2 separate regions of the Homo sapiens genome follow, and region 1 is linked to region 2. A link means that fine-mapping ties the variant in region 2 to the expression of a gene that starts in the linked region. Tissue or cell type: whole blood. Region 2 holds a variant in brackets; the other region holds the start of a gene. All regions are shown on one strand. Distances are between the middles of the regions.

What was found. PIP is the estimated chance that this variant, and not a neighbour inherited with it, causes the effect.
Region 1: ARMH3 starts here. The variant in region 2 is fine-mapped to the expression of ARMH3 in whole blood (TOPMed, PIP above 0.99).

What each region holds. Positions count from the first base shown.
Region 1 is chr10:102,053,311-102,058,310 of GRCh38, reverse strand. ARMH3 (armadillo like helical domain containing 3) reads left to right here and starts at 2,138. Exons shown (of 26, transcript NM_024541.3): 1 at 2,138-2,226. RefSeq lists a silencer at 2,049-2,438.
Region 2 is chr10:101,797,238-101,805,562 of GRCh38, reverse strand. OGA (O-GlcNAcase) reads left to right here. Exons shown (of 16, transcript NM_012215.5): 7 at 1,544-1,828; 8 at 5,163-5,321; 9 at 6,108-6,721; 10 at 7,409-7,583. Among named protein-coding and RNA genes, the nearest start is that of OGA, 17 kb to the left of the region's middle. The variant G/A (reference allele first, on the strand shown) is at 4,987.

The DNA of each region.
Region 1 (5,000 bases), 250 kb before region 2:
TATTGTGTACAAGGCAAGGGGGCAGGGTAAGGAGTGTGAGTCATCTCCAATGATAGGTAAGGTTACACAAGTCACGTGTCTGCCGGACAGGGGGCCCTTCCCTATTTGGTAGCCGAAGCAGAGAGAGAGGGGACAGCTTACGTCATTATTTCTTCTGTGCATTTCTCAGAAAGATCAAAGACTTTAATACTTTTACTAGTTCTGCTACTGCTATCTAGGTACAGAGCGGAACAGGAAAGTGAACCAGGAGCGTGACCGCTGAAGCACAGCATCTCGGAGAGGTTTAAGCCTCCGGTTGGCTGCGGGTAGGCCTGGCTGATGTCAGGCTTCCAACAAGAGGTGGTGAAGCAGAGTGTTCTCTAACTTCCTCAGGGAAAGGCCCGTCTGCTAAGTAACAGGTGCCTTCCCAGGCACTGGCGCTATGGCTAGTCCAAGGTCTGCTAAGTAACGGGTGCCTTCTTAGGCACTGGCATTACCGCTAGACCAAGGAGTCCTCTAGTGGCCCTGTCTGGGCGTGACAGAGGGCTCACACTCTTGCCTTCTGGTCACTTCTCACCGTGTCCCTTCAGCTCCTAACTCTGTATGGCCTGGTTTTCCTAAATTATAATTGTAAAATATAAGTTATTAATAAAAGTAATGCTACAAACTAATGATTACTAATATTCATATATAATCACATCTATATTCTATTTCTAATATAGCTATTCTTATTTTAATTATTTTCTTTATTATACTGGAACAGCTTGTGTCTTCGGTCTCTTGACTCGGCACCTGGGTGGCTTGCCGCCCACAGAACTCTTCTCCACTTCTTTTTTGTTTTGAGACGGAGTCTCGCTCTGTCGCCCAGGTTGGAGTGCGATGGCGCGATCTTGGCTCACTGCAACCTTCGCCTCCCAGGTTCAAGCGATTCTCCTGCCTCAGCCTCCCGAGTAGCTGGGATTACAGAGGACTGCCAACACGCCCGGCCATTTTTTGTATTTTTAGTAGAGATGGGGTTTCACCATGTTGGCCAGGCTGGTCTCGAACTCCTGACCTCAGGTGATCCACCCGCCTTTGCCTTCCAAAGTGTTGGGATTACAGGTGTGAGCCACCGCGCCTGGCTTATTTTATTTTTTTTACTTGTTTTTTCTTTTTAATAGTATTCTTGCTGTTATAGCACATCTTTTTAAACCTTCCATTTGTGTATAAAAAAACAGAGACTCAGGCTGGGTGCGGTGGCTCACGCCTGTAATCCCAGCATTTTGGGAGGCAGAGGCGGGTGGATCACCTGAGGCCAGGAGCTTGAGACCAGCCTGGCAACATGGTGAAACCTTGTCTCTACTAAAAAATACAAAAATTAGCCGGGCGTGGTGGTACACTCCTGTAATCCCAGCTACTGGGGAGGCTGAGGCAGGAGACTCTCTTGAACCCGGGAGGCAGAGGTTGCAGTGAGCCGAGATCGCACCACTGCACTCCAGCCTGGGCAATAGAGTGAGACACCATCTCGAAAAAAAAAAAAAAAAAGAAAACAAAGACTCAGAGGCAGGGAGTGGTGGCACGTGCCTGTAATCCCAGCTACCAGAGGCAGAGGCAGGAGGACTGCTTGAGCCTAGGAGGTGGAGGCTGCACTGAGCTGTAATTGTGCCACTGCGGCACTCCAGCCTGGGCAAGGGCAAGATCCTGTCTCAAAAAAAAAAAAAAGGAAAAGAAAAGAAAATAGATTTCTGGCCAAGTTAATAGAGCTTTACACGCTACTTTGCACTTATCAGGCACACACGTATTTGTTGAAAGAATGAGTTTGTTTTCAATCTTTCACGTACAAAGTTGTAATACACATTTGGAAAATATATCTTTCCAAACTTCGCCAGTATTTCTAGAGGATACATGTATTCCTAGAAGTAAAATTGCTGAGGTCAAAGAGTCGGCCATGTTTCGGAAAACTGCTATTGCGACCCAGTAGGCCCTCAATAGACAAGTCCACTGCGAATTTATTTCTCGCGATGCCTTTCGGGAGTTGTAGTCTTTGCGATGCTTGCTGGGAATCGTGGTCTGAGCCGGTCTCAGGAAGCGGGCGTGGACTAACCCATTGCGCGCCGGGCTTTAGGACCCGGCGGGGCGCGGGGACACGGGAAGGGTCGGGGAGGTCGGGAGCGCGCCCGTGAGCCCGGAGCAGCGGCAGCGTCGGTGGCGTCGAGAGCGAGCGGGCCCGGGAACGGCGCGGGTGGTAGAGGAGGAGCCGCGGGCTCGGTAAGCGGCGGCGGCCAGGCCCGGCCCGGTCCTCGAACCTGACCAACCCTGCGGGTCCTGCCATACTAGGCCTTGGCCCCGAGGCGGTTCTGGGGGCGGGGCCTGCGCTGGCCGCGGGGACGACGAGGACGCGAGGGGAGAGGGAGGGAGGACGGCTGCTGAAGCTGCGTATGCCGGGGAGGGCTGGGCCTGGGGGCGGCCGAGCCTAGAGAGAAACGGCTTCGCTCTTCCAGCGGCCGGTCCCTCGGACCACACGGTCCCGGTCACGTCCCTCTCCCGCATCCCTGCGGGGCCTTCTGGCTTCCGAGGTGCTGACCTTTGACCCCGCCAGCTGCCCCGAGAGCTTCCTCTCCTGCTGTTCTTGGTCCTGGGGTGCGGGCGTAGGGCAAGGCACCTCTGAGAATCTCAGGGATAGAGGAAAGCGGGTTTGTGCGAAGTCTTCAGGTGTCCCGGAAGGGCTCCAGTCCTGTCCCTCTCCAGGCTCTGACAGGCTTTAACCCACTCTTCACACGGAATCAGTGAAGCTACTGTGTTTTCTTTGGGTTACTCGGCGAGAGCCCAGGAAAGGAACCTGTTCCCAGGAGGGTATAGGGAAGGAAAAAGTAGAGAGAAACCTGGTCCCCTGGAGAAGGAGAAGCTGAGGCGTGCTGCCCCTGGCGAATGGGGAAGCAGAAACTTGGGCCATACCCAAATGTATGTCACTGGATCATCCGACCCTCCGCAGTTCTTCCTCTCCAGAAAGTTTTTTATTTTATTTTATTTATTTATTTATTTATTTATTTATTTTGAGATGGAGTTTCGCTGTTGTCGCCCAGTCTGGAGTGCAGTTGCCCGATCTCGGCTTACCACAACCTCTGCCTCCGGGGTTCAAGCGATTCTCCTGCCTCAGCCTTGCGCTACCACGCCCAGCTAATTTTATATTTTTGATAGAGACGGGATTTCTCCATGTTGGTCAGGCTGGTCTCGAACTCCCAACCTCAGGTGATCCGCCCGCCTCGGCCTCCCAAAGTGCTGTGATTAAAGGCGTGAGCCACCGCGCCCGGCCTTTTTTTTTTTGTTTGTTTGTTTGTTTTGTTTTTTGTTTTTTTGAGACGGAGTTTCGCTCTCGTTGCCCAGGCTGGAGTGCAATGGCGTGATCTCGGCTCACTGCAACCTCCGCCTTCCAGGTTCGAGCGATTCTTCCCCGTCAGCCCCCCAAGCAGCTGGGATTACAGACGTGAGCTACCACGCCCGGCTAATTTTTGTATTTTTAGTAGAGACAGGGTTTCGCCATGTTGGCCAGGCTGGTCTCAAACTTCTGACCTCAGATGATTCACCCACCTCGATCTCCCAAAGTGTTCGGATTACAGGTGTGAGCCACTGCGCCCGGCCAGAAAAAGTTTTGAGCTTAGTGAGAGCTTTTTCTTTGCTATCCTTTAGTTGCTTTGTAAACTAGGGTAAATATGATTTGTGTCCCTGCCCGTAACTTAGCAGGATTGGAATTATTTTGGGTGTACCTTAAGTTGGATTTGTGTGCACAATAGCTTCTGTGTGAAGACTTTCAGGATATCAGATCACAGTCAAGGGAAAGAGGGATCCCTCTTGTTACGACTGTAAAGGGGGAATACCCATTTCAGTGACTAGAGAAGCCTTTAAGGTGTTTTCATTGGACTTTTAGGTATTACAATTTATTGTTCAACTTTTTTTTTTTTTTTTTGAGACGGAGTCTCGCTCTGTCGCCCAGGCTGGAGTGCAGTGGCATGATCTTGGCTCACTGCAACCTCCGTCTCTCGGGTTCCAGCGATTCTTCTGCCTTAGCCTTCTGAGTAGCTGTGACTACAGGCGCGCACCACCATGCCTGGCTAATTTTTGTGTTTTTAGTAATGACGGAGTTTCACCATATTGGCCAGGCTGGTCTCCAACTCCTGACCTCGTGATCCACCCGTCTCAGCCTCCCAAAGTGCTGGGATTACAGGAGTGAGTCACTGCCCCCAGCCGACTTGTTCAACATTTGGATAATTAAAACAAGGTGAAAACCTCAAAGCAGTCATTATGAAATTTGGAATCTCACACTGAGCACAGTTTAGGAATCTGTAACATTTGGGGAAAATGGCCAAAAATTGATCCAGGATATATAAGGGTGAACTGTTTATTCAACACATTTATTGAGCACTTACTATGTAACTTTGGGAGGCGGAGGCCGGCGGATCACAAGGTCAGGAGATCAAGACCATCCTGGCTAACATGGTGAAACCCCGTCTCTACTAAAAATACAAAAAATTAGCCGGGTGTGGTGGCGGGCGCCTGTAGTGCCAGCTACTAGGAGGCTGAGGCAGGAGAATGGCATGAACCCAGGAGGCGGAGCTTGCAGTGAGCCGGGATGGTGCCACTGCACTCCAGCCTGGGCGACAGAGCGAGACTCCCTCTCAAAAAAAAAAAAAAAAATTTATACAGTGTAATGGGAATACTGCCATTGCTTGGGAGAGTCAGGGAAATCTTTGCAGGGGGGAGATACTTGAGTTGGGTGTTGAAGGATGAGTAGGAGATTGCACAAGTAAGAAAAGGCATTTTTACTCGGCCTGGTGGCTTATACCTGTAATCCTAGCACTTTGGGAGGCCTAGGCAGGTAGATTGCCTGAGCCCAGGAGTTTGAGACGAGCTGGCTCAACATGGCGAGACCCCATCTCTGAAAAAGAAAAGGCATTTCATTTGGAGAGAACAGTACTTGCAAAGGCTTGGTGAGGATGTGAGAGGAAAAAAAATTATTTTAAATCTCAGAAATTTGTCCCAAACAG
Region 2 (8,325 bases):
CTGACTCAGCCTCCCAAGTAGCTGGGATTACAGGCACACGCCACCACACCCAGCTAATTTTTGTATTTCTAGTAGAGACGGGGTTTCTCCATGTTAGCCAGGCTGGTCTCAAACTCCCGACCTCAGGTGATCTGCCCACTTCGGCCTCCCAAAGTGCTGGGATTACACATGTGACCCACTGCACCTGGCCCAGAGAACTTGTTAAAATACGCTTTCTTTTACAAAGTTTACATATTCTCTTAATATGAAAAAACATCTATCATGGTTGGGGAGCCTGAGTGGGGAGCCTGAGGTGGAAGCCCCCAGGAGTTCAAGACCAGCTTAGACAACATAGAGAGACTGTAGAAAAAATAAAAAACTTAGCCAGGTGGGCTGGTGCACACCTGTAGTCCCAGCTACTTAGGGGGCTGAGGTGGAAGGATCACTTGAGCCCGGGAGGTAGAGGCTGCAGTGAGCTGTGATCATGCCACTGCACTCCAGCCTGAGCAACAGAATGAGACCCTGTCTCAAAAAAAATTCAGTTAATAAATAATAAAGATTTATAGGGAATTGGGCTAAAAGGTATTGATCCCATCCTTAAGCAGCGTTAGGAAACTCTTCTATTTTATAAAACGAAAAAAATAAAGCTCAGTAAAAGACATGTTGTGTTTTCAAAAGAAAAATTGTGGCTGGGTGCATTGGTTCGTGCCTGTAATCCCAGTGCTGTGGGAGGCTTGAGTTGAGGTAGGAGGATCGCTTGAGGCCAGGAGTTTAAGATTAGCCTGGGCAACATAGCAAGCCCTTATCTGTACAAAAAAATTTTAAATTACTGTGACATGGTGGGGCACACCTGTAGTCCCAGCTACTTGGGAGGCTGAGGTGAGAGGATTGCTTGAGCTCAGGAGCTCAAGGCTGCAGTGAGCCATGATTACTCCATTGCACTTCAGCCTGGGTAACAGAGGAGACCCTGTCTCAGAAAAAGAAACGTTGTTATAAAATGTACATGTAAGGGGCCAGGCGCAGTGGCTCACGCCTGTAATCCCAGCACTTTGGGAGGCCGAGGCAGGCGGATCACAGGGTGAGGAGATCGAGACCATCCTGGCTAACACAGTGAAACCCCATCTCTACTAAAAAATACAAAAAATTAGCCAGGCGTGGTGGAGGGCGCCTGTAGTCCCAGCTACTCAGGAGGCTGAAGCAGGAGAATGGTGTGAATCCAGGAGGCGGAGCTTACAGTGAGCCGAGATCACACCACTGTACTCCAGCCTGGGCGACACAGCGAGACTCTGTCTCAAAAAAAAAAAAAAAAAAGTACACGTAAGGAAAACAATAAAAAGTTATATATGCAGTATATTTTAAAGAACCATGATTCTTTTTTTTAAATATATTTTTTAATTTAAAATAAAAAGATAGGGTCTCGCTGTGTTGCCCAGGCTGGTCCGAACTCCTGGGCTCAAATGATCTGCCCACCTCTGCCTCCCAGAGTGCTGGGATTACAGTTATGAGCCAATGCGTCTAGCCAAGAACCATGATTCTTTTAACGAACGGTTGTCGTTATTTCTAGGTCCCAAAGTTGTTTCTAAAGAAATTCCAGTAGAGTCCATCGAAGAGGTTTCTAAGATTATTAAGAGAGCTCCAGTAATCTGGGATAACATTCATGCTAATGATTATGATCAGAAGAGACTGTTTCTGGGCCCGTACAAAGGAAGATCCACAGAACTCATCCCACGGTTAAAAGGAGTCCTCACTAATCCAAATTGTGAATTTGAAGCCAACTACGTTGCTATCCACACCCTTGCCACCTGGTACAAATCAAACATGAATGGAGTGAGAAAAGATGTAGTGATGAGTAAGTAGCCTGTACTTGATCTTTCACCTTGGGAGGAGAGCTGGGGTTAACTAGAGCCAGTGGAAAGTATGCATTCCTTTGTCATCACAACTTAAACAGTTTTATTTATTTTTTTAAAAACGTATTTTGTTTTACTAAGGAGGAAACAAAACCAAGTGGTTTTATTATGGTATGTTGTTTCATTCTGTTGATGAAGATGTATATGATAGAAGAAAGGTTGAGTGTCTTTGGACAAGTCACTTAACCTCTTTGCCTTAGTTTTTTTTTTTTTGTTTTTTTTTTTTTTAGTATGATTCAGAAGCAGCGTGGTGGCTCGCTTATAATCCCAGGAAATGCACTCCAGCCTGGACAACAGATGAAAATCCTATGAAATAAATAAAAATAAAATATGGTTCAGTCTTTGAAGTCTGAGTACTAGAGGAGACAGTCTTTTAAGTGTTTCCATTATCTCTAGAATCATTCGGATAAAATGTATTTTCAGGCAATTTTATTGAAAAGGATATTTTAGATAACTAGATACTCTTGAGTCACTTAGATCATTTAGATTCAGCTTACATTTATCTTTTATGGAACATACTCTTTTTTTTTTTTTTTGAGATGGAGTTTTGCTCCATCGCCCAGGCTGGAGTGCAGTGGCGCAATCTCAGCTCGCTGCAACCTCTGCTTCCCAGGTTCAAGCGATTCTCCAGCCTCAGCCTCCCGAGTAGCTGGGATTGCAGGCACACCCGGCTTTTTTTTTTTTTTTTTTTTTTTTTTAAAGTAGAGACAGGGTTTCACCATCTTGGCCAGACTGGTCTCGAACTCCTGACCTTAGGTGATCCACCTGCCTCGGCCTCCCAGAGTGCTGGGATTACAGGCATGAGCCACCCTGCCTGGCCGAATGGAATACAGTCTTATTTTAGACATTGGCTTACTAATTTTTAATTTATGAAAAATCTCTAATTAATAGAGTTCTAAGTAAGGTGCTTGATAATTATTTACATTTAAATAATCTGTCATGGGGCAGATGCATGTTCATGGGCACTGAGGGGGCAAAGAATAAAGTAGTTTTTTTTTTTTCTTTTTGAGATGGAGTCTTGCTCTTGTTGCCCAGGCTGGAGTGCAGTGGCGCAATCTCAGCTCCCTGCAACCTCCGCCTCCCAGGTTCAAGTGATTCTCCTGTCTCAGCCTCCCGAGTAGCTGGGATTACAGGCATGCGCCACCATGCCTGGCTAATTTTGTATTTTTAGTAGAGACGGGGTTTCTCCATGTCAGGCTGGTCTTGAACTCCTGACCTCAGGTGATCCGCCCTCCTGGGCTTCCCAAAGTGCTGGGATTACAGGCGTGAGCCATCGCGCCCAGCCATTCCTACTTTTGAGAAACAGTCTAGTGTTGGGTAAGGCTTATAGGCAATTGTACTATAGTGTGATAAGTGTTGTAATAGTTTAATTTATAAAGTGCTGTGTGAACACGGGAGAGAGTGATTATTTTTGCTAAGAGATTTCACAGACTTTTAAGCTGGATCAAAGTATGAGGAGAGTTTGCTGGGCGTTAAAGGTTTGTGGGCTGGAGGTTAAAAACACTGAACACTGAAAATTTTTTTTTTTCTTTGAGACAGAGCCTCGCTCTGTTGCCCAGGCTGGAGTGCAGTGGCGCGATCTTGGCTCATTGCAACCTCTGCCTCCCTGGTTCAAGCGAGTCTCTGGCCTCAGCCTCCTGAGTAGCTGGGATTACTGGCGCACACCACCCCATCTGGCTGATTTTTATAGTTTTAGTAGAGACAGGGTTTCACCATGTTGGTCAGGCTGGTCTCGAACTCCTGACCTGGTGATCTGCCTGCCTCTGCCTCCCAGAGTTCTGGGATTACAGGCGTGAGCCACTGTGCCCAGCCTGAACACTGAACTTTTGAAGTTCCCTGAATTTTGGCCCATTTTGGCTACTGAAGTGTCATGATAGTATGTAGTAATATTAATAGTTGTCATCTGTTTCTCAATTCCATACCTCTGCTTTGAATTGTTTATTGAATTAATGTCTCCCTTTTGTTTGGCTCAGTCATTGTCATCCTCCTCCCCTCAATAAAAAACAAATTGGGAATATAATTTAAATGCTGTCAGCGTACATGGCACTTAACTCCTACATCTTTTAAGGCACAGCAAGGAACATACTAAGGGTGGCAGACACTATCCAAACCTGGGACATACGTAGGAAATATTAAGGAAAGCTAAGAATAGAGAGTTTTTAAGTACAAAATCAAAAAATTCAGACTTAATTTTCTCTACCACTATCCTGGCTCAGAGCTTTGTTGCCTTATGTGTGCTAATTTGTGGGTCTCTGTCGATTATCTCTTTTTTTTTTTTTTTTCTGAGACGGAGTCTTGCTCTTGTTGCTCAGGCTGGAGTGCAATGGCCCGATCTCAGCTCACTGCAACCTTTGACACCTGGGTTCAAGCAGTTCTCCTGCCTCAGCCTCCCGAGTAGCTGGGATTACAGGTGCCTGCCACCACGTCTGGCTAATTTTTTGTATTTTTAGTAGAGATGGGGTTTTACCATGTTGGCCAGGCTAGTCTCAAACTGCAGACCTCAGGTGATTTGCCCGCCTCAGCCTCCCAAAGTGCTGAGATTACAGGCATGAGCCACCATGCCTGGCCTCTTCTTTTTCCCTCAGCGCCTTTATTAATGAAGTTACAGTCGGTTGTAGTGGCTCACGCTTGTAATCTCAGCACTTTGGGAGGCCCAGGTGGGCAGATCACAAGGTCGAGTTCGAGACCAGTCTGGCCAACATGGTGAAACCCCATCTTCACGAATAATAGAAAAATTAGCTGGGCATGGTGGCATGCGCCTGTAGTCCCAGCTACTGGGGAGGCTCAGGTGGGAGAATTGCTTGAACCTGTGAGGCGGAGGTTGTAGTGAGCCAAGATCCTGCCACTGCACTCCAGCCTGGGTGATGGGGTGAGACTCCATCTCAAAAAAAAAAAAAAAAAAAAAGAAGTTACAAGGCCCTGAAGGCTATGCAATGTTTTCTTCATACGAAAAGCATGGTACTTTTGACCTTGACTTCCCAACAATTAGTACTCAGTAGACGGTTAAGATTGACTCTTCCACTGATACTAAAATTTATATTTCTTATTTCAATTGAGATTTTACATTTAACATTACGTTTAGGTTACTATCCTATATGAA[G/A]TGGTTTGGTGAAGGGTCTTGCTTTTATTTGAATTTTTATGTTTAAGGTTTGTTCTCATTCTGTTCTTTGTTTCTGTGGTTATACTGTGAAAACTAGTTGCATTTATTCTTCTCACTTGTCAGAAGGCTTTTGTAATCAAAACTATTTTTGTGCTTTTTTATTTTATTTTTTGCAGCTGACAGTGAAGATAGTACTGTGTCCATCCAGATAAAATTAGAAAATGAAGGCAGTGATGAAGATATTGAAACTGATGTACTCTATAGTCCACAGATGGCTCTAAAGCTAGCATTAACAGAATGGTTGCAAGAGTTTGGTGTGCCTCATCAATACAGCAGTGAGTTTGGCCATTCTTTGTTAAGGGGGTTAGATCACATAGTTGAGTCACAAAGTAAAGAACACTGTCTCCCGGGTGTGGTGGCTCACACCTGTAATCTCAGCACTTTGGGAGGCCGAGGCAGGCGGATCACCTGAGGTCAGGAGTTCGAGACCAGCCTGGCCAACATAGTGAAACCTTGTCCCTACTAAAAATACAAAGATTAGCCGGGCGTGGTGGCATGCGCCTGTCGTCCCACCTACTTGGGAGGCTGAGGCAGGACAGTCGCCTCAACCTGGGAGGCAGAGGTTGCAGTGAGCCAAGATTGAGCCACTGTACTCCAGCCTGGGTGACAGAGCGAGACTCTGTCTCAAAAAAAAGAACACTGTCATGTGCCTTACCTTATGCCCACTAAGCAAAGTGAAATTAAATGAAATTGGGGGATCTAGAGAATAAGGATTTTTAAATCTTACTTTTGGTCTTAAATATTAGCTTTTATTTTGATGGAATGCTAATTTCTCTTAAAAACATATTTTTTGAAGTAATTTAAGGGTTTTTAGACACAAATTTTCAAAAGAGAATGTAATAGTAGATGTTGGCATGTTTACCTCCCAACGCCCTTCCATTCCTGCATCCCTAGTAGTATAGAGAAATCTCATTTTTCTTAGAGGTCAAATTAATTTGGATCTAAAATTGAGGTTCCACTTAACAAATATGATAAAGCATCTTTCTGAATCTAATGTGTTCTATCTCTAATTCTGATTATCTGTGTGACCATTTTATTTATACATTTATTTATTTTTGTAGGTAGGCAAGTTGCACACAGTGGAGCTAAAGCAAGTGTAGTTGATGGGACTCCTTTAGTTGCAGCACCCTCTTTAAATGCCACAACCGTAGTAACAACAGTTTATCAGGAGCCCATTATGAGCCAGGGAGCAGCCTTGAGTGGTGAGCCTACTACTCTGACCAAGGAAGAAGAAAAGAAACAGCCTGATGAAGAACCCATGGACATGGTGGTGGAAAAACAAGAAGAAACGGACCACAAGAATGACAATCAAATACTGAGTGAAATTGTTGAAGCGAAAATGGCAGAGGAATTGAAACCAATGGACACTGATAAAGAGAGCATAGCTGAATCAAAATCCCCAGAGATGTCCATGCAAGAAGATTGTATTAGTGACATTGCCCCCATGCAAACTGATGAACAGACAAACAAGGAGCAGTTTGTGCCAGGTCCAAATGAAAAGCCTTTGTACACTGCGGAACCAGTGACCCTGGAGGATTTGCAGTTACTTGCTGATCTATTCTACCTTCCTTACGAGCATGGACCCAAAGGAGCACAGATGTTACGGGAATTTCAATGGCTTCGAGCAAATAGTAGTGTTGTCAGTGTCAATTGCAAAGGAAAAGACTCTGAAAAAGTGAGTATGTTTAATGTACCTGCTGCTGAAGCCTGGGTGGTTCCCCATACTGGTAATGTGGAAAAGGTTCTTAAATGAGTACACTGTAACTGACAGAAAATTGACCATGTTTTAGAATATGTTCTTTAGGCCGGTTATGATGGCTCATGCCTGTAGTCCCAGAACTTTGGGAGGCAGAGGCGGGCAGATCACCTGAGGTCAGGAGTTTGAGATCAGCCTGGCCAACATGGTGAAACCCCATCTGTACTAAAAATACAAAAATTAGCCGGGCATGGTGACGGGCACCTGTAATCCCAGCTACTCAGGAGGCTGAGGCAGGAGAATCGCTTGAAGAACCCGGGAGGCGGAGTTTGCAGTGAGCTGAGATCGTGCCATTGTACTCCAGCCTGGGTGACGAGAGGGAAACTGTCTCAAAAAAAAAAAAAAAAAAAAAGTATGTTCTTTACAGTGGATGTGGACTCTACTAAATCTGGTACCTTCAGTTTCATAGTTTGCCCTTCTAGTTAAGAATGAGGAAAGGTCATTATTTTAGGAATATTTGTCAGTTTGGGGAGACACAAAATGATACTTTAATGGTTAAGATAAATTGCCAGTACCTGACAACATAAGCAGCTTAATGTGTAACTGTGTCTCAGATTATTTTGTTAAGCTTACAGTTTTTTGAGTCTTTTTATTGATCTTCAATAGATTGAAGAATGGCGGTCACGAGCAGCCAAGTTTGAAGAGATGTGTGGACTAGTGATGGGAATGTTCACTCGGCTCTCCAATTGTGCCAACAGGACAATTCTTTATGACATGTACTCCTATGTTTGGGATATCAAGAGTATAATGTCTATGGTGAAGTCTTTTGTACAGTGGTTAGGTAGGTGCACCAGGAATAATCTCTTCTCCTCAAATATATTGTCCCTTTAAAAAAAATTATCCCACAGGGAGAAAAACATTTAGGGAATTGGCACATTTCCAAGTCTCTTCAATTCGTTGCCTAGGTTTCTTTCAAAAATAGGCATTATTGAAGACTTGAGATGCAAGTCTTAGTAAATACATCAAGCACATTAATTTTTCTCCCTTGGGCTAATTCAGCATAAGTATCTTAAAAGTATGTTAGAAAGTACTGACTTTAACTTGCTCTGACTGAATGCTTTCTGGATGGAACCCTGTATACCACTTTTATCTGATTTGGAGATGAGACACTATGAAATGTGACTCCACAAGCTTTCTGCTGCTTGCTGTGTCTTGATAACATTAATGCTATGTTTAACAGAACAATTGCTGAAATGACCTAAAGGGCCTGGCAAGAGGAAGCCATCCTCCCAGCCCTGTGCGCATGCGAGCTTTAGTGTAAGGCTATTCTGGTGCTATTCAGTATTATTTCACGTGGCTTTTTCTTTATCCTTCTACCAAGTATTGGTTTTACCAGGGGATAGAAATTGTAATCCCCTAAACATCTCTGCTACATTAAATGGACTTTTGTATGTCTCCTTTGAACACTGATTTTTTTTTTTTAAATTGTCAAACTTGGTAAAAAGCACCAGCATGGCCAAGTTTCTCTAGGGACTTCATTTCATTTTCAGGTTTTCAATCCAGCTATAAGGAATATGTAATGG